2 linked regions of the Homo sapiens genome follow. The gene in region 2 interacts genetically with the main gene of each other region. Each region holds a gene or a part of one and is shown on either strand. Other genes may lie near its edges.

What was found.
Region 1: changes in POLD1 (region 2) and ATR are lethal when combined (synthetic lethality), as found in Homo sapiens cells (2 studies listed by BioGRID).

The regions. Positions count from the first base shown.
Region 1 is NC_000003.12:142,568,734-142,575,733, forward strand, and holds part of ATR (serine/threonine-protein kinase ATR), read right to left. Parts: intron 1-7,000. UniProt on the Homo sapiens protein: Serine/threonine protein kinase which activates checkpoint signaling upon genotoxic stresses such as ionizing radiation (IR), ultraviolet light (UV), or DNA replication stalling, thereby acting as a DNA damage sensor.
Region 2 is NC_000019.10:50,378,161-50,389,958, forward strand, and holds the start of POLD1 (DNA polymerase delta catalytic subunit), read left to right. Parts: upstream 1-6,186; 5' UTR 6,187-6,230; intron 6,231-7,774; exon of another isoform or gene 7,775-8,697; intron 8,698-9,499; exon of another isoform or gene 9,500-9,644; intron 9,645-11,798. Other genes in the region: NR1H2 (oxysterols receptor LXR-beta), read left to right, coding at 1-279, 362-636, 842-1,021, 1,620-1,719, 3,806-4,014, 4,296-4,442. UniProt on the Homo sapiens protein: As the catalytic component of the trimeric (Pol-delta3 complex) and tetrameric DNA polymerase delta complexes (Pol-delta4 complex), plays a crucial role in high fidelity genome replication, including in lagging strand synthesis, and repair.

The sequences.
Region 1 (7,000 bases), on a different chromosome or scaffold from region 2:
CCTGGCCTCTCCCCGCTCCCGGCACCCACACCAATTTCGGAGCAAAGTTGTGGGGGAGCCCAGGTGTTGTCAGGACCAGGCCGCGTGTGCATGTGCTCAGGACGGCACTGACACACCAGCCCCCTGCTGCCTCATCTCCCTCTGGACTTTGGGCAGGCCAAGCGGTAGGCTGAGGGCAGCTCAATATGGGCCTGCAGGCGCCCCTCGGCACGAACAGCCTCGGTGTAGTGGGTGGCAGGTTGATGGCAGCAGGAAGTAGGCTCCTGGGAGGAAAGGGGTGGGTCCCCAGTGAAGACCCACCTTCAAGCCAGGAACAGCTTGAAGCCTGGAAGCCTGGCTGCCAGTTACACGGACCACAGCGAGAACTTAGGGTGCTTTTTCCAGGCCCACCCATGACTGCCTATGGACCAATTAGCATTCACTTCCTCCCTTCTGAAGCACATAAAAACTAAATTTTTGGTGGAACGCTAATACCCTTTTCCACAGTGGCTGTACCATTGTACACTCCCACCTGCAGTGGACAAGGGTTCCAATTTCTCCACATCTTCACCAACACACGTTATTTTCTGGGTGTTTTTTTATTATTATTTTATTTTCCCCTTTTGGCGACAGGGTCTAACCCTGTTGCCCAGGTTACTGTGCAGTGGTGCACCCATAACTCACTGCAGCCTCAACCTCCCAGCCTCAGGAGATCCTCCCACCTCAGCCTCCTGAGTAGCTGGCACCACAGGTGCATGTCACCACACCCAGCTAATTTTTTGTATTTTTTGTAGAGACAGGGTTTCACCACGTTGCCCAGGCTGGTCTCAATCTCCTGGGCTCAAGCGATCTGCCTGCTTTGACCTCCCAAAGTGCTGGGATTGTAGGCATGAGTCACCATGCCCAACTGTGTTTTTTTTTTGTGGGATTTTTTTTGTTTTTTGGTTTTTTTTGAGACAGAGTCTTGCTCTGTCACCAGGCTGGAGTGCAGTGGCATGATCTCAACTCACTGCAACCTCTGTCTCCCGGGTTCAAGCAATTCTCCTGCCTCAGCCTCTCAAGTAGCTGGTACTACAGGCATGCACCACCATGCCTGGCTAATTTTTTGTATTTTAGTAGAGATGGGGTTTTACCATGTTGGCCAGGATGGTCTCAATCTCCTGACCTCGTGATCCGCCTGCCTCAGCCTCCCAAAGTGCTGGGATTACAGGCATCAGCCAACATGCCCAGCCCCAACTGTTTTTTTATTAATAGCTATCATAATGGGTGTGAAACAGTATCCTGTGGTTTTGATTTGCATCTCCCTAATGATTAGTAATTGTGAGCATCTTCTCATGTGCTTATTTGTCCATTTGTATATCTTCTTTGGAGAAATGTCTATTCAAGTTCTTTTTCTGTTTTTCATCAGGTTATATTTGTTGTTAAGCTGTAGGAGTTCTTAATATATTCTAGATATTAAACTCCTTATCAGACATATGATTTGCAAATATTTTCTCCAGTTCCATGGGTTGCCTTTTCACTCTATTGATACTGCCCTTTGATGCACAAAGTTTTTAATTTTGATGAATTCCAATTTATCTGTTTATTTTGCTGCCTGTGCTTTGTGTCATATCAAAGAAATCATTGCCAAATCCAGTGTCATAATGTTTTCCCTCTATGTTCCCTTATTTTTATTTATTTATTTACTTTTTGAGACAGAGTTTCACTCTTGTTGCCCAGGCTGGAGTGCAATGGCGCGATCTCAGCTCACCGCAACCTCCGCCTCCTGGGTTCAAGCGATTCTCCTGCCTCAGCCTCCTGAGTAGCTGCGATTACAAGCATGTACCACCACGCCTGGCTAATTTTGTATATTTTTAGTAGAGACAGGGTTTCTCCATGTTGGTCAGGCTAGTCTGGAACTCCTGACCTCAGGTGATCCACCCATCTTGGCCTCCCAAAGTGCTGGGATTATAGGTGTGAGCCACCATGCCCGGCCCCCTCTATGTTCACTTCTAAGAGTTTCATAGTTTTAGTTCTTATGTTTAGGTATTTGTATGCCTTTTGGACTTTTAAAATTTTCCTGTAGCAGTAAAGAGAGAAGCCAGATTGCAAGGGGCTGAAAATCTAATGAAATGTGAATACTGAGAATAGCGGGTTCTTTCCAAAGCTTGATCATGAAATGAAGAGAAGTAGAGTTGGTGATAACTAAAGAACTGTATGAGATCAAGAGGGCTTTGTTTTGTTTCTCCCTTATAATGGAAAGACCTAAGCAACCAATTCTTGAGATGTGACTCCTCTTCTTGGAACCAGATATAAGTAAAAAGACAATCCTTGGACAGGAGGGTAACTCTTTCATAAACATAGAAAGAATGGATGGGTACAGACGCAAATAATTTAATAAATTCAAAAGGCAAGTAAAACAAGATCCTCTGCTTCAAAGAACTCAGAATAGTTGCTGGGGAGAGGAGAGGAATGCACTTAAATAATCAAAAGCGGCCGGGCATGGTGGCTCACGCCTGTAATACGAGCATTTTGGGAGGCTAAGGCAGGCGGATCATGAGGTCAGTAGATCTAAACCATCCCGGCTAACATGGTGAAACCCCATCTCTGCTGAAAACACAAAAATCAGCTGGGTGTGGTGGCGGGCGCCTGTAGTCCCAGCTGCTCAGGAGGCTGAGGCAGGAGAATCGCTTGAATCTGGGAGGCGGAGATTGCAGTGAGTCGAGATCGCGCCACTGTACTCCAGCCTGGGCGACAGAGCGAGACTCAGTCTCAATAAATAAATAAATAAATAAATAAATAAATAAATAAATAAATAATCAAAAGCAAGTATCATGTACACCCAAAGCAGGGAATGATTAACTCTACCTAGAGGATTCACAGTGGGTTATGTGTGAGTGATTAGCAAAGTCCATCACTTCTGACAAAACAACTTAGGGTGTAGTAAGACAGTTACTTATAAATAATAGCATATATTTCATATATGTCACAATTTATTTCTATATAGCACTGTAAAATGTTCATACATTTTCCCCACTTATTATCTCAAATAGTGGTAAAAGAAAAAGAGTGAATTTTTTTCTTTTTCTGATACAGAGTCTCGCTCTGTCGGCCAGGGTGAAGTGCAGTTAGTGGCACGATCTTGGCTCACTGCAACCTCCGCCACCCGGGCTCAAGCAATTCTCCTGCCTCAGCCTCCCAAGTAGCTAGGATTACAGGCGTGTGCCACCACACCCAGCTAATTTTTGTATTTTTAGTAGAGACGGGGTTTCACCATGTTGGCCAGGCTGGCTCGAACTCCTGACCTCAGGTAATCCGCCCGCCTCAGCCTCCCAAAGTGCTGAGATTACAGGCGTGAGCCACCGCACCCGGCCCTTTTTCTTTTTTTTTTCTTTTGAGACGGAGTCTCGCTCTGTCGCCCAGGCTGGAGCGCAGTGGTGTGATCTCGGCTCACTGCAACCTCCGCCTCGCAGCTTCAAGTGATTCTCCTGCCTCAGCCTCCCGAGTAGCTGGGACTACAGGCACGTGCCACCACGCCCGGCTAATTTTTTGTATTTTTAGTAGAGACGGGGTTGCACCATGTTAGCCAGGATGGTTTCGATTTACTGACCTCATGATCCATCCGCCTCGGTCTCCCAAAGTGCTGGGATTATCGGCGTGAGCCACCACGCCCGGCCTGACTTTTTTTTTTTTTTTTTTTTTTTTTTTGATTATTCAAACCACAAAGTCCAATCCTAATTGATTACATATAGGATCAATAGCATTTACAGCTAATAAATGCCATAAAAGAACTGATACTGGTCGGGCATGGTAGCTCATGCCTGTAATCCCAGTGCTTTGGGAGTCCAAGGTGGGCAGACTGCTTGAGCTCAGGAGTTTGAGACCAGCCTGAGCAACATGATGAAACCCTGTCTCTACAAAAGAAATAGAAAAATGAGCAGGTATAGAGACACACACCTGTAGTCCCCAGCTACTCAGGAGGCTGAGGTGGGAGGATCGCTTGAGCCTGGGAGGCTACAGTGAGCCAAGATTGTGTCACTGCACTCCAGCCTCGGTGACAAAACCAGACCCCTGTCTCCAAAAAATAGAAAAGAAAAAAAAGAACTGTTCTCTGGTCCTGGTACATAGTAGACATTTAAAGAAAAAAAAACAACTCTTCAATGAATGAATGGTTCATAAGAACCTTCCTGAATTTTGTGGTTTCTTCATTCCTAATGTACAGCCTTCTGGACCTATGGAATATTTACCTATTCCCTGCCACTAGACTATAAGCTCCTACAGGTGGCAGACTGTGCTTTATTTCTCTCTGCATGTCCTAAAGTGCCATTAGACCGTAAGCTCTTATAGGAGAGAAAATGCATTTTATTTCTTTTTGCCTCTGCTACATCACCTAGAACTTGCTTAATAGAAAAACTTACTGAAATTAACAAATGTTTTTAAGTAACATAAACTCTAGACACAAAGAATCAAAGGGCCAGGCGTGGTGGCTCATGCCTGTAATCACAGCACTTTGGGAGGCTGAGACGGACTGATCACTTCAGGTCAGGAGTTCCAGATCAGGCTGCCCAACATGGTGAAACCCTTTCTCTACTAAAAGATAGAAAAATTAGCCAGGCGTGGTGGTGGGCGCCTATAATCCTAGTTACTTGGGAAGCTGTGGCACTGAGGCAGGAGAATCGCTGGGACATGGAGGTGGAGGTTGCAGTGAGCCAAGATCGCACCACTGCACTCCAGCCTGGATGACAGAGTGAGACTTCATCTCAAAAAAAAAAAAAAAAAAAAGCAAGTTTGTATATGCTACTAAATAAAGTCCTTAAAAAAAAAAAAGAATCAAAGAACAAGTAGTTACATTTGCATATGAAAGCAAAACAACTTAGTGCTATGTATCTTATTTAAATCAGCGCTGGCCAATAGAAATATAACGTAAGCCATAATTTTGTTATTTTCTGGTAGCCACATTAAGAAAAGAAACAGGAAAAAAACAATTGATCCTAACAATATATCTGAAATATTAGGTGAATGTGTAATCGATATAAAAATTATTCATGAGATCTTTTACATTCTTTTTTCTGGTACTAAGTCTTTGAAACCCACTGTGTATCTTATATTTACAGCACATCTCAATTTAGACTAGCCGCATGTGAGGTGGTCAATGGTCACATTTGGCTAGTGGCTACCATAGTATAGGGCATCACAAATTTAACAAAAAATTCAAAATCTGTAATTACAAGGTAACATGAATTGTTTTAGACAAAGTCAGGAGACATTATGATAAACCACAGTAATTTCACAAGTATCATTTAAAAATGTGAACAAAGAGGAACATGGGAAGAGGAGCCAGGATTGTGGGTAGTGGTCAGAGTTTCTTACAAAGTTTCATTTTGTAAAGATTATGTACTCATGTATTATTTGTGTAATTTTTAAAAATCAGTTTTAGAAAAATGTAAATTGATTACCATTCATTAGATCTACTATCAGAAGAAAGAAACTTGGCCGGGCGTGGTGGCTCATGTCTGTAATCCCAGCACTTTGGGAGGCTGAGGTGGGCGGATCACTTGAGCCCAGGAGTTTGAGACCAGCCTGGGCAACATGGTGAAACCCCGTCTACAAAAATACAAAAATTAGCCAGGCATGGTGGCACACACCTGTAGTCCCAGCTACTTGGGAGGCTGAGGTGGGAGGATCGCTTGACCCCAGGAGGCAGAGGTTGCAGTGAGACATGTTCATGCTATTGAACTCCAGCCTGAGCAACAGGTGAGCCAGTCTCAAAAAAAAAAAAAAAAAAAGAAAAAAGAAAGAAAACTCACAGGAGTGAGCACTTCTTATTTTGTGACTTCTACCCTGGAACTGAGCTAAGAGGGTATAACTTTTCAAAAGCATACTATAAAATTTGAGTATTAATGTAAGTATTATATAAAGCTTAGGCACCTCCTCTGAGGTAAGCATCAAATACCAGGATAACCAAGACAGAATGCACCTGCCCTAAAATAATTTGCAGATTAAAGGACAAACAAGAGGTAATTATGGTTAAGAACTGACAGGCCCAAGAAAGAACACAAAGGGACACTCAGCCCTGAGCAGGGCCCTGTCAGTCATGGCTTCCTTAACGAGGTGATACAAAACTGACTCCCTAAGGGACAAGGCAGTGAAATAAGGGTAAGAGGGAGGGTAGTCCAAGCACTGGAAACTGTAAGAGGCTCTATGTGGCTAAAGCCTTTAGAGATGCAGCTGAAGAGGGAAGATAAGGTTAAATTTCAAAGGACTGGCTAAGTAGTTTGGATTTTACACTGAAGGCAATGTGTAAGCACTGAAGGATTTTAAGGAAGTAAAAATTAAGCAAGTTTTAAAAAACTTGCTTATTTCCCTGTTTAAAAGATTCCAATGGTTTCCCATCACACAATAAAATCTCACTCCTTTTTCTAGCCTCCAAGGTGCTGAAGGATGTGGCCCTTGCCTACCCCTCCCTGTTTAACTCATACCACTCCCCTCTTTACTCCCTGTGCTCCAGCCTTCTTACTATCCTTTTAAAAGTAGGCTCATTCAGCCTTGGCATGGTGGCTGAGGTGGGTGCATCACTTGAGGTCAGGAGTTGGAGACAACCTGTGCAACATGGTAAAACCCCATCTTCACTAACAATATAAAAATTAGCTCGGTGGTGCAAGCCTGTAGTCCCAGCTACAGGAAAGGGAGGCTGAGACAGGAAAATCGCTTGAACCCGGGAGGCAGAGGTTGCAGTGAGCAGAGATCACGCCACTGGAGAGGGCGAGACTCCGTCTCAAAAAAAAAAAAAAAAAAGCAGGCTCATTCCCACTTATGGGCCTTTGTACTTCCTATTCCATCCCAGATTCACGTGACTAGCTTCTTTACACCATCAAATCTCCTCTAGTGGCTAATGCTGCTGCTCCTCAGAACCTCCTCCACATCCCACTGTTCCATTTAACATTTTAATAGCAACTATCACATTTGAAAATGTCTTACAACTACAAAGCAATCTCAAGTAGGAAAATCAGAGAAGGTGATTCTGAAATGACATCTAAATGAA
Region 2 (11,798 bases):
CCGAAGAGGAACCAGAGCGCAAGCGAAAGAAGGGCCCAGCCCCGAAGATGCTGGGCCACGAGCTTTGCCGTGTCTGTGGGGACAAGGCCTCCGGCTTCCACTACAACGTGCTCAGCTGCGAAGGCTGCAAGGGCTTCTTCCGGCGCAGTGTGGTCCGTGGTGGGGCCAGGCGCTATGCCTGCCGGGGTGGCGGAACCTGCCAGATGGACGCTTTCATGCGGCGCAAGTGCCAGCAGTGCCGGCTGCGCAAGTGCAAGGAGGCAGGGATGAGGGAGCAGTGTGAGTGCAGCGGGAGGGGGCGGTGCCGGCCTGGCCCCCCGCCTAGCCCTGGGGTTCTGCTGAGGCCTGCATCCCCCTACAGGCGTCCTTTCTGAAGAACAGATCCGGAAGAAGAAGATTCGGAAACAGCAGCAGGAGTCACAGTCACAGTCGCAGTCACCTGTGGGGCCGCAGGGCAGCAGCAGCTCAGCCTCTGGGCCTGGGGCTTCCCCTGGTGGATCTGAGGCAGGCAGCCAGGGCTCCGGGGAAGGCGAGGGTGTCCAGCTAACAGCGGCTCAAGAACTAATGATCCAGCAGTTGGTGGCGGCCCAACTGCAGTGCAACAAACGCTCCTTCTCCGACCAGCCCAAAGTCACGGTACTGCCCCCTCCACAACCTTGAGTGTGACGGTCCCAATGGGGTAGAGCCAGCTGGGCCATCACCCAGGGTGTGGGAGAATGAGGCTCCAGAGGGCAGGGGCTTTGGGAAGAGGATCCCCCAGGGTGCAGGCTTGGCCTCAAGGTGGCCACCCAGACTTAGGCTCACAAAGACCTGGGAGTGACCCTGGTCTCCTGTGTCCCAGCCCTGGCCCCTGGGCGCAGACCCCCAGTCCCGAGATGCCCGCCAGCAACGCTTTGCCCACTTCACGGAGCTGGCCATCATCTCAGTCCAGGAGATCGTGGACTTCGCTAAGCAAGTGCCTGGTTTCCTGCAGCTGGGCCGGGAGGACCAGATCGCCCTCCTGAAGGCATCCACTATCGAGGTAATGGTCCATCTGCCCACAAGGAACCCCAGAGATAGCTCCAGGACAGATGCTGGGAGCAGAGTTAAGGAAGACCAGTGCTTGCCGTTGTAGGATGACATTCCACGGCGAATAGAGTCTTCTATGAGCCAAGGAGAGAAAGGAAAAAGGGTCTGAGGCTGAGAAAATTGAGGATCAGGCTAGAGGCGCTATTGCAGAGAAAAGTTGCCAAAAAGGCTTTTCAGAGGAGTTAGCATTTGAATCAAAGTAGGGATAACATATAAGTATTGAGCACGTGCTGTATGCCAGGCTCTATTCCAAGTGTTGGCATATGGGGCAAAGAACAAAGCAGATCAAACCCCGTGCCCCAAACCTTGTGCTCACCTGGGGAAAGAGTATCCTAAGGAGATGGGGATGCAGCATGTGCGGAAGCCTGAAGTGGAGAAAGAGCTCGGGCTGTCTCACGTGATGGCTGCACGCTGGTGTGGCTGAGAGAACAGGGGGGAAGGGGACAAGGGATAATCCTGGTGAGATTAGACCCCCATTTGGGCCAGGAGGGGAGGGACTAGCAGCTGAAGGGTCACAGGGCTCAAGCTCCCCCTCCCGCTGCCGCCCTTAGATCATGCTGCTAGAGACAGCCAGGCGCTACAACCACGAGACAGAGTGTATCACCTTCTTGAAGGACTTCACCTACAGCAAGGACGACTTCCACCGTGCAGGTAGGGCCCAGGGGAGGCTTCGGGGAGGCTTGGCGCCCCTGCTGGCTGGAAGACCTGGGGCCAACTCATCCCTGTTGGAGTCTCTGTTTCTTTATCTCCAAAGTTGGGGTGAGGGTTGAGCCAAGGTGAGAGTGAGGTAAGAGTGCATGTGCCACGTGTGGTGGTGCACGCCAATAGTCCCAGCCACTCGAGGCTGAGGAGGGCAGATTGCTTGAGGCTATAGTGAGCCGTGATTGTGCGACGGCATTCCAGCCTGGTGACAGAGAAGACCGTGTCTCTATTTTTTAAAAAAAGCATGTATTGAGTGCCGACTCTGTACATTGGGTTGCAGTGGAAGTTGAGATGGGAGGAGCCCTGTTACCACATCAGGCATCTTGGTGGGCATTAGGAAAAGCATTCCCCGCCCCCGCCAAAACGTGGTCTCACCCAAGGGAGGCGGGCTGGAGCTCGGTCCATTGTGAAGCGGGCAGCCTTCTTTACTGTCTAGGGGAGCACTGCTTCCTGCCCTCTGAGAGCGCTAACCTGCGTGGGTGGGCTTCTGGAAGAAGGCCTGGGCAGTGAGAGGCACTGCCTAGGAAAAGGGTGGGAGGAGCATTGCTAGTGCTGCAGAGCATGCACCAGGGCCTCGCTCCCTCATTGTCCCACAATCTCTGGGGGACCTCTCTGTATTTCCCGACATCTGTCCAAACCCCACCCTCTCCCCTTCCTCTTACTCCGGCCCTTTCACCACCCGAGACGGTCCCAGTAACCCTTTTAGTATGAGCTTAGCAGGGCAGGGCTGCAGGGAAGCGTTTCTGGCAGAGGAGATTGGCGATTGCAGAGGCCCTGAGGTTGGGGAGAGCTGGTGGTTTGGAGGAACTACAGGGAGGCCCAGGCAGCTGGAGCACAAGGAGATGGGGTGGAGAGGAGGTCGGGAATCCCACCCTACCCCTTCCCAGCCGCTCCTCTGCCACCACCCTGGAACACTGCCAGGGTCCCCTTGAGGGGCCGCCTGCCTCCACCCCTGCCTGATGGGGCTGCTCACAGCACAGGCAGAAGGGTCCTGTCAGCACTTAAGGCTGCCCACTTCCCTCCTCCGCTCAGAACCCTCCGCGGCTCCCGTCTCACTGGGAGAAGAGCTAGAGTCCTCTCTGTGGCCCACAAAGCCCTTTAGGACCTGGCCTCGCTCACTCTCTGCCCTCAGCTCTCACCCTCTCCCCCTGTTCCAGCCACTCTGGCCTCTTACTGGCACCCATCCAGCATGCTGCAGCCAAGGGCCTGTGTACTTGGAGTTTCCTCTGCCCAGAACTAGGGGGACCAACTGGTCCTAGTTTGCCCAGGACCTTCCCAGTTTTAACACTGAAAGTCTCATGGCCTGGGTAGCCCCCGTCCCAAGTCATGGGAACAGCAGACGTTGGTCACCCTCACAATCCCTCATCTCCTTCGGATTGGTCACTGCTCCAGCGTCACCCAGAGCGCAGCCTTCCCTGCCCGCCTTGTGTAAAATAGAACCATGGCTCAGCAGGGCCCTTCACACTTCTCTGCACTGCCTGGTTCCATTGAACTCACAGCCCTCTGACAGGCTGGGCCTCTTCCTAATGTGTTTGTCTATGACCGGTCCCCTAGGCTCTCAAATGTAAGTGCTGGAGCCTGGCACGTGGCAGGTACTCAGTGACATTTGATGACTGAATGAACAAGTCAGTTTTGGGAATGAGTTTGGGCTTTACCTTGAGCAGTGGAAGCCAGCGCTGGGACCAGCACGATGTGACCTAGGTTTTAAAAGCTTCCCTTTGCCTTTGTGAAGGGGACAAGAATAGGGACTCGGGAAGCTGCAGCCACCGCCCAGGTGGGAAGGGAGGGTGGTGATAGGATAGTAGAAAATACTGAAGAAACATGCACCCTCATTCATTCCTTCACTGGGCAGCATGTGTGGCACACCTACTACATGCCAGCACTCATGGGCACGGGGCACAGGTGGACAGAAATGACAAGAACGCTGTAATTACTGCTGTGTTCCCAGCCCCAGAGACTGTGGGCAGCGCCAGGGTCCAGGATGTGGGGCACGGTTTCGGGCTGAGGGAGTCACGGGCTGCCTCCCGCCCCGCAGGCCTGCAGGTGGAGTTCATCAACCCCATCTTCGAGTTCTCGCGGGCCATGCGGCGGCTGGGCCTGGACGACGCTGAGTACGCCCTGCTCATCGCCATCAACATCTTCTCGGCCGACCGGCCCAACGTGCAGGAGCCGGGCCGCGTGGAGGCGTTGCAGCAGCCCTACGTGGAGGCGCTGCTGTCCTACACGCGCATCAAGAGGCCGCAGGTAGGGCCCCGCAGAGCCTCTGCGCAGAGCCAACTACGTCCCGCGGCCCACGTGGTCCGTTCAGGCTGGGTTCTGCCAGCCACACTGCCCTCCCCTCCGCAGAGTCTTTCCTCAGGCCCCACCCTGCTCGACTGGGAGCCAGGTCTAGTCCAAGCACAGAGGCGGGCCCCACGCTGGCTCCCACGCCTGGTCGGGGAGGGGCCCTCCTTTCTGTTGGGGTGGGCCTCCCAAAGCCTGGCAGGGCAGGGGCTCAGCCAGCGCCCACCTGCCTCCTCCCTCAGGACCAGCTGCGCTTCCCGCGCATGCTCATGAAGCTGGTGAGCCTGCGCACGCTGAGCTCTGTGCACTCGGAGCAGGTCTTCGCCTTGCGGCTCCAGGACAAGAAGCTGCCGCCTCTGCTGTCGGAGATCTGGGACGTCCACGAGTGAGGGGCTGGCCACCCAGCCCCACAGCCTTGCCTGACCACCCTCCAGCAGATAGACGCCGGCACCCCTTCCTCTTCCTAGGGTGGAAGGGGCCCTGGGCCGAGCCTGTAGACCTATCGGCTCTCATCCCTTGGGATAAGCCCCAGTCCAGGTCCAGGAGGCTCCCTCCCTGCCCAGCGAGTCTTCCAGAAGGGGTGAAAGGGTTGCAGGTCCCGACCACTGACCCTTCCCGGCTGCCCTCCCTCCCCAGCTTACACCTCAAGCCCAGCACGCAGTGCACCTTGAACAGAGGGAGGGGAGGACCCATGGCTCTCCCCCCTAGCCCGGGAGACCAGGGCCTTCCTCTTCCTCTGCTTTTATTTAATAAAAACTAAAAACAGAAACAGGAAAATAAAATATGAATACAATCCAGCCCGGAGCTGGAGTGCAAGATGGAGAGGGCGCGGGCTTCTAGGGACCTCAGTGACACTGGGTGCCCGAACCTGATTGAGCAGGTGGGACTGGGTGTCCCCAGGCTGTTGGGAAAAGGGTGGCACATAGGGTCCCAGTGTTGGGTGGTGTGTCGCCTGCTGTGAAAGTTCAGGACAGAGGCCTCAGCCTCAGGGTCACCTCCCTGGACAAGGTGAATCAGAACTCACCCTTGAAGGATAAACAGGATTTAAGTGAATGAGGGGACCTGGACTTCTGTCCGAACAACAAGTGTTTGCTGAGGCCTCCTGTGGGCCAGGCACTGGGTTGGCCATTCTAGAGATGGAGACATTCACCCAATAAATGTTTCCAGAGCATTAACTACAGTTAGGCACAATTCTAGGCACTGGAAACATCTGTGAACAAGATAACCATCCTCCTACCAAGACTCGGGGGATAGGGACTTTAATGAGCGTGGCACTGTGGTGGGGCTAGAGGAAATCAGGGAAGGTATCACAACAGAGGCAATCGCTGGGACCTAAAACAAGAGCCTGGGGGCTGGGCCTCCAAGTTGAGGGAACAGCACGTGCAAAGTTTGAAAGGAGAGACGCCAGGAGTTCGGAGCGAAGCGACGAAGTTCCTCCAATCCTTCCTGCCCCTGTGCCAGCCCTGAAGGAGCTGAATGAGCAATTCCAATCGAGGGCGAAAGGGGGGTTGGATGGAGGGATGCAACTTAAAGGTGTATTTATTTGGGGCGGGGAACAGCGGAAGTGAGAGTAGTTACCAATGATCACCTTATCCTAAGAGTAGTGTACCGGGCGCCCCACAAGTGTCCCTATCATGCGTTGTTGAGTCTAATTTACGTATAGGGAAACTGAAGCTAGGATGAAGGAGAACAGATCAAGCCAGGACTCTACCGCTTATCGGCCAGCCTCTGCGGGGATCTTGGGCGTCAGGTCACCAGCTGGCTGCTGGGCAGCGACGGGGCAGCGCTCCCTACACGGCCCCGGGCGAGAGGCGGGCGGGGGGACGCGGAGGATGCGCGCGCAACACCCGAGGGTGGGAGGAGAGAGAACAGAACCGCGGCGCGCCCAGACCGCACGAGGTCGTGAAGGTAGCCGCGCGGAGGGGCGTGGCTTCGGGCAGACAGGTCATGGGGAGGCGGAGTTAAGGGAATTTTTCAGCAAGGGGGCGAGGCCACTTCGGAAGCTGAGAGAGGGGGCGGGGCCTGCCCTGCAGTCGAACAAGCGGGGCGTGGCCTTGCCCGCACTTGGGCAGGCGGGGGCGTGGCCCGTCTCTGAGCGCCGCGGCTCTGGGCTTGCGCGCGCGGGAGTCAGGGGTCACGGCGGCGTAGGCTGTGGCGGGAAACGCTGTTTGAAGCGGGTGAGTAGAGGGGAAAAAGGGAGTTCGGGGCAGTGGGCCTGGTAGGGAACGGGGCTTGAGCAGCCAGGCACATAGATCTGAGAGACGGTTGCGAGGGCACCCTTTGGCCCGGGGGCGCGCAGGAGAGGGCAGGGGCCAGGGGTTTCCTGGGCGAGGGCGCGGGGACGAGCAGGAAAAGGCCGGGGTGGGGGTGGAATTCCTCGGCGGGCAGGGGGCGCATGCGCCGGGCACCGTGGGGCGGGACGTGGCCCGGGAGGAGCTGGGGGGACTGGGTGGTGCACGTGCGGGCTTGGTGTCATCCTGGATTCGCTGGGTGTTTGAGTACTCTGTGCCAGGCACTTTTCTGGAAGCAGGAACAAGTCAGAGAAGTCCCTGTCTCGGGAAGACAGACGGTAGACAAGTGATGAGTTTTAATAGATCAGTAAAGCAGTGCTCTGGGGCTGTGAGATGCTCTCAGAAGGAAACTAACGCAGGGTAACGTGATAATGAGCGAAGAGCCTGTTGCTTTAGCTGGAGTGGTCCAGAATCGACCGCTCTGGGACCCTCAAGTGCAAAGCCCTGAGGTGGAAGGAGCTTGGCGTATTTGTAGCAGGAGCCGAGGGGACGAGAGAAACACAGATGAGGTCGGAGTCATGATGGGGAACTAGATCCTATAGGGCCTTGTAAAACTTGGTATGGAATTTCTCCTTTATTCTAGGTTCAGCGGGGAGCCGTGGGAGGGTTTGAGCGTGGAAACAACACGATTCGCCCCATGTTTTGAAAAACTCACCACTGAGTGGAAATTGGATTGTAGCAGGAATAAGAATGGAAGGAGGGAGATCTGTTAGGAGGGAGAGCGTCCTGCAGGCAGAGAATCAGGCTCCGGTTACCTTTGCGGGCGGAGACAGGGGGACTGGCTGATGGACTGGGCGTAGGAGCAAGGGGAAGAGTCCAGGATGACTCCTGGGTTTGTGGTTTGAGCAGCAGGCTGGATGGGGAAGGCTAAGGGAGAAGCAGGTTGGGGTTGCCGCTCTGAAGGCAAAGATTAGTGGGGGAGTGAGTGGGCAGGGTTTAGAGCGGAGCCAGGAGTGGGCAGGGCGATGTCAGTGCCTCGCCTCAGCCCTTCCACTGAAGGAACTTGTTGCCACTGTCTTCTCTTTTTTTTTTTTTTTTTTTTGAGACAGAGTCTTGCTCTGTCACCCAGGCTGGAATGCAGTGGTGCAAACTCAGCTCATTGCAACCTCCGCCTCCCGAGTTCAGGCGAGTCTCGTGCCTCAGCCTCCTGAGTAGCTGGGATTACGGCACCCACTGCCATGCCCAGCTCATTTTTTGTATTTTTAGTAGAGATGGGGTTTCGCCGTGTTGGCCAGGCTGGTCTCGAACTCCTGACCTCAGGTGATCCACTTGCCTCGGCCTCCCAAAGTGCTGGGATTACAGGCGTGAGCCACCACGCACGGCCGCTTCTCCTCCTTCCTGCACTTCCCCCCCACAGGTCTCTCTTCCCCCTAGAGAGGTTCCTTCCCTCCCCCTGAAATGCTCTTCCCTCTCTTATGTGTTTCTGACAGCTGCTGTTTGGACAGGCCCTCTGCTGAGCACTGGGGAGCCAATGATCATTCAGTTTGGTTGGGGAAGGACAGGAGATTTCAGTCCAGAGTGCGCTGAGCTATGGCGGAGCAGTGATAGTCTTTGGGAGCCAAGAGAAGAACCTGTGCGCTCAGGGAAGACTCACCAGAGTGGTTGATATTCACAGGGAGTTTCAACTCACATGTCTTTTTTTTTTTGGTTTTTGAGACAGGGTCTTGCTCTGTCGCCCAGGCTGGAGTGCAGTGGCGCGATCTCGGCTCACTAACCTCCACCTCCCGGGTTCAAGCGATTCTCATGCCTCAGGCTTCCGAGTAGCTGGGATTACAGGTGTGTGCCACCACGCCCAGCTAATTTTTGTATTTTTAGTAGAGACAGGGTTTTGTCATGTTGCCCAGACTGGTCTCGAATCCCTGACCTCAAGTAATCCTCCCACCTCGGCCTCCCAAAGTGCTGGGATTACAGGTGTGAGCCACCACACCCGGCCTAAACTCATGTCTTGAAGTAACCGGACACTGTGCAGAGTGATGCTGGAGACCCCAACTTGGGCAAGATGCTGACTCCTTTTCTCAAGGAGCTCACAGGCTGAAAGGATCCCAGCTCTGCATTGTGCAATAACGAAAGTGGCACAAGGCGTTGTGGGAACCCTGAAGGGCAGCTGGTCAGCTTGGAGGAGCTAAGCCTGAGCTGAGTCTCTGGATGCAGTGGAGTTTCATGCAGCGAACACTGCCTAAGGCCTCCTGGGGGCCCACCCTGTGCTGGGTGATGCTAAGGTCCCAGAGGAGAGTCAGTCCTTGCTCTGCCATCCAGAGGTCCCTGGCTGGTAAGGGAGGAAGACACACACCCAGGCAGTCCAGAGACAGCAGTCACAGAGGCCTAGGGGAAGGACAAGGCCGAAAGCATGCAGGTGAGCCTGGGCAACATAGCAAGACCCTGTCTCTACAAAAAATACAAAAGCTAGGCCGGGCGCGGTGGCTAAGGCCTGTAATCCCAGCACTTTGGGAGGCCGAGGCGGGCAGATCATGAGGTCAGGAGACCAAGACCATCCTGGCTAACACGGTGAAACCCCGTCTCTACTAAAAATACAAAAAATTAGCCGGGCGTGGTGGTGGGCGCCTGTAATCCCAGCACTTTGGGAGGCCGAGGTGGACGGATCACTTGAGGTGAGGAGTTTGAGACCAGTCTGGCAGACATGGTGAAACTCTACTAAAAATACACAACTAGCTGGACATGGTGGGCGCCTGTAATCCCAGCTACCTGCGAGGCTGAGGCAGGAGAATCACTTGAGTCCAGGAGGCGGAGGTTGCAGTGAGCAAGATCCTTTCCCAAAAAAATATATAAATAAAAATAAAGCTGTGAGATTGGGCAAGATTGGATGAGGTCATTGAGGAAATGAGTGTCTCACTCATCGAGAAAACTGGTGTCTGGCCTGCAGCGAGCACGTGGTGTCATTTTGTTGCTGAATCTCTGTTAAGTGCTTGCTACCGAAGGGTCGTGAGAGGGGCAGAGGACAGTGTTTGCCAAGCTCTCATCCTGTGCCAGGGCCAATGAGAGGGGACACACAGGGGCCTTTCCTTCCTAATGCTGCTGTGCCTCCACTAACAAGAGCCCAGGTTTTGCCCCTGGTGACACCGTCCCTCCCACCGCACCCCCGCAGCCACAGCCAACTGACCAAGGGCAGCCAGTCAGCTCCTTCCTTCCTCCTCCAGCTTCAGCACTGACTCTGGGCTCCCACAAGCCCCTGCGCTTCCTCTGTCCCACCCGGGTCTCTCCTCGCAGATCATCACTCCCTGTCCCTCTCTGGCTACTTGCACAACCCGAAGCCAGAGCCGCTAACGACGCTTGCTTCTTCCTGTAAGTCACACATGTACGCGGTTGTCACCCAAAGAGCACAAACGCAGTCAAAGTCTTCCTCACACAAAACCCCCTGCACACGCTCACGGCTGCACCACTCACAAAAGGTGGAAGCAACCCTAATGTCCATCCACTGATGAAGGGATACGTCAGACGTGTTCTAGCCATACAGCGGAAAAGTACTCAGCAAAAAAGGGACACAGCACTGACGAAAGGCCGCCACACACATGAGCGATGAACACATTCAGAGAAAGCAGCCAGACACAAGAGGCTGCATATTCCAAGATCCCATTTATAGGAAATGCCCAGAATAGGCAGATCCATGGAGACAGAAAGTTAGATGAGTGGCTGCCAGGGGTGGGGGCAGATGGGCTGAATGCAGGGAGAGAGCTAAAGGATTTAGGCTTTTTGGGGTGATGAGAGAGTTCTAAAATTGACTGTGGTGATGGTTGCCTAACTCTGAACATACTAAATACCATTGAACTATATATACTTTAAATGGGTGAATTGTATAGTATGTGAATTATAGCTCAATAAAGCAGTTAGCAAATGAAGTCTTCTACCCTGTCCCCCAGGAAACCAGTTTCTTAGCTCTCCTTATAGAATGATGCATTAAAAGCAAATAGATTTATACATATGCCCTGCATTACAATAAAAAAGACGTCTACATACTCCCTGCATTACAATAAAAAAGACGTCTACATACTCCCTGCATTAAAAGCAAAAAGATTTCTACATACTCTTCTGCCCACCTTGTAAATTTGTTACTATTTTCATTTTATATATTTCCCCCTTAATATTTTGAAAAGTTTCAAACCTGCAGAGAAGGTACAAATTGAGTACAGTGAACAGCCATGGCCCTTTGCCTAGATTCACTGGCTGTTGGCATGACACCTCATTTGCTTTATGCTTTATCCAAGCACATGCATATACCTGTACCTTTTGTCCTTTTTTTGGCTGAACTATTTGAAAGTTGTGGTCATCATGATACTTCACCTCTGAAAACTCCAGCAGTTAACTCTTTTTTTTTTTTTTTTTTTTTTTTTGAGACGGAGTCTTGCTCTGTCACCCAGGCTGGAGTACAGTGGTGCGACCTTGGCTCACTGCAACCTCTGCCTCCCAGGTTCAAGCGATTCTCCTATTGCAGCTTCCTGAGTAGCTGGGACTATAGGCGCGCACCACCACATCTGGCTAATTTTTGTATTTTTAGTAAAGATGGGGTTTCACCATCTTTGCCAGGCTGCTCTTGAACTCCTGACCTTATGATCTACGTGCCTCTGCCTCCCAGAGTGCTGGGATTACAGGCATGAGCCACCGCACCTGGCCTCTTTTTTTTTTTTTGGTACAGTATTTTACTCTGTCATGCAGGTTGTAGTGCAGTGGGGTGGTCACAGCTCACTGCAGCCTCGACCTCCCCAGGCTCAGCTGATCCTCAGCCTCTCGAGTAGCTGGGACTAAAGGTGTGTGCCACCACACCCTGCTAATTTTTATATTGTTTATAGAGACAGGGTGTCACCATGTTGCCTAGGCTGATCTCAAACTCCTGGGTTCAAGCAATCCCCCTGCCTCGGCCTCCAAATGTCCTGGGATTACAGCCGTGAGCCACCGTACCTGGCCTCCAGCAGTCAGCTCTTAAGAACAGGGATGTCCGCCTGCAGAACTACAGTGTCATTGTCATCATCATGCAGTTTAACATGAGACAGTGACGTTATTGAATAGACGATTCTTATTTAGATCTGCCACGTGTCCCTGTAATATTCTTCAAGGCTATAAATAATTTCTTATTTTTTTTTTTTTTCCAAGACTGAGTCTTGCTCTATCGCCCAGGCTGGAGTGCAGTGGCACTATCTCGGCTCACTGCAACCTCTGCCTCCTGGGTTCAAGCCATTCTCTTGCCTCAGCCTCCCGAATAGCTGGAATTACAGGCATGCACCACCACGCCCGGCTAATTTTTTTGTATTTTTTGTAGAGACGGGGTTTCATTTTGGCCAGGCTGGTCTCGAACCCCTGACCTCAGGTGATCCGCCCGCCTTGGGCTCCCAAAGTGCTAGGATTACAGGCGTGAGCCACCATGTCCAGCCTGTTTTTTTTTTTGTTTTTTGTTTTGTTTTTTTTTTCTTTTTTGAAACAGAGCCTCATTGTCACCCAGGCTGG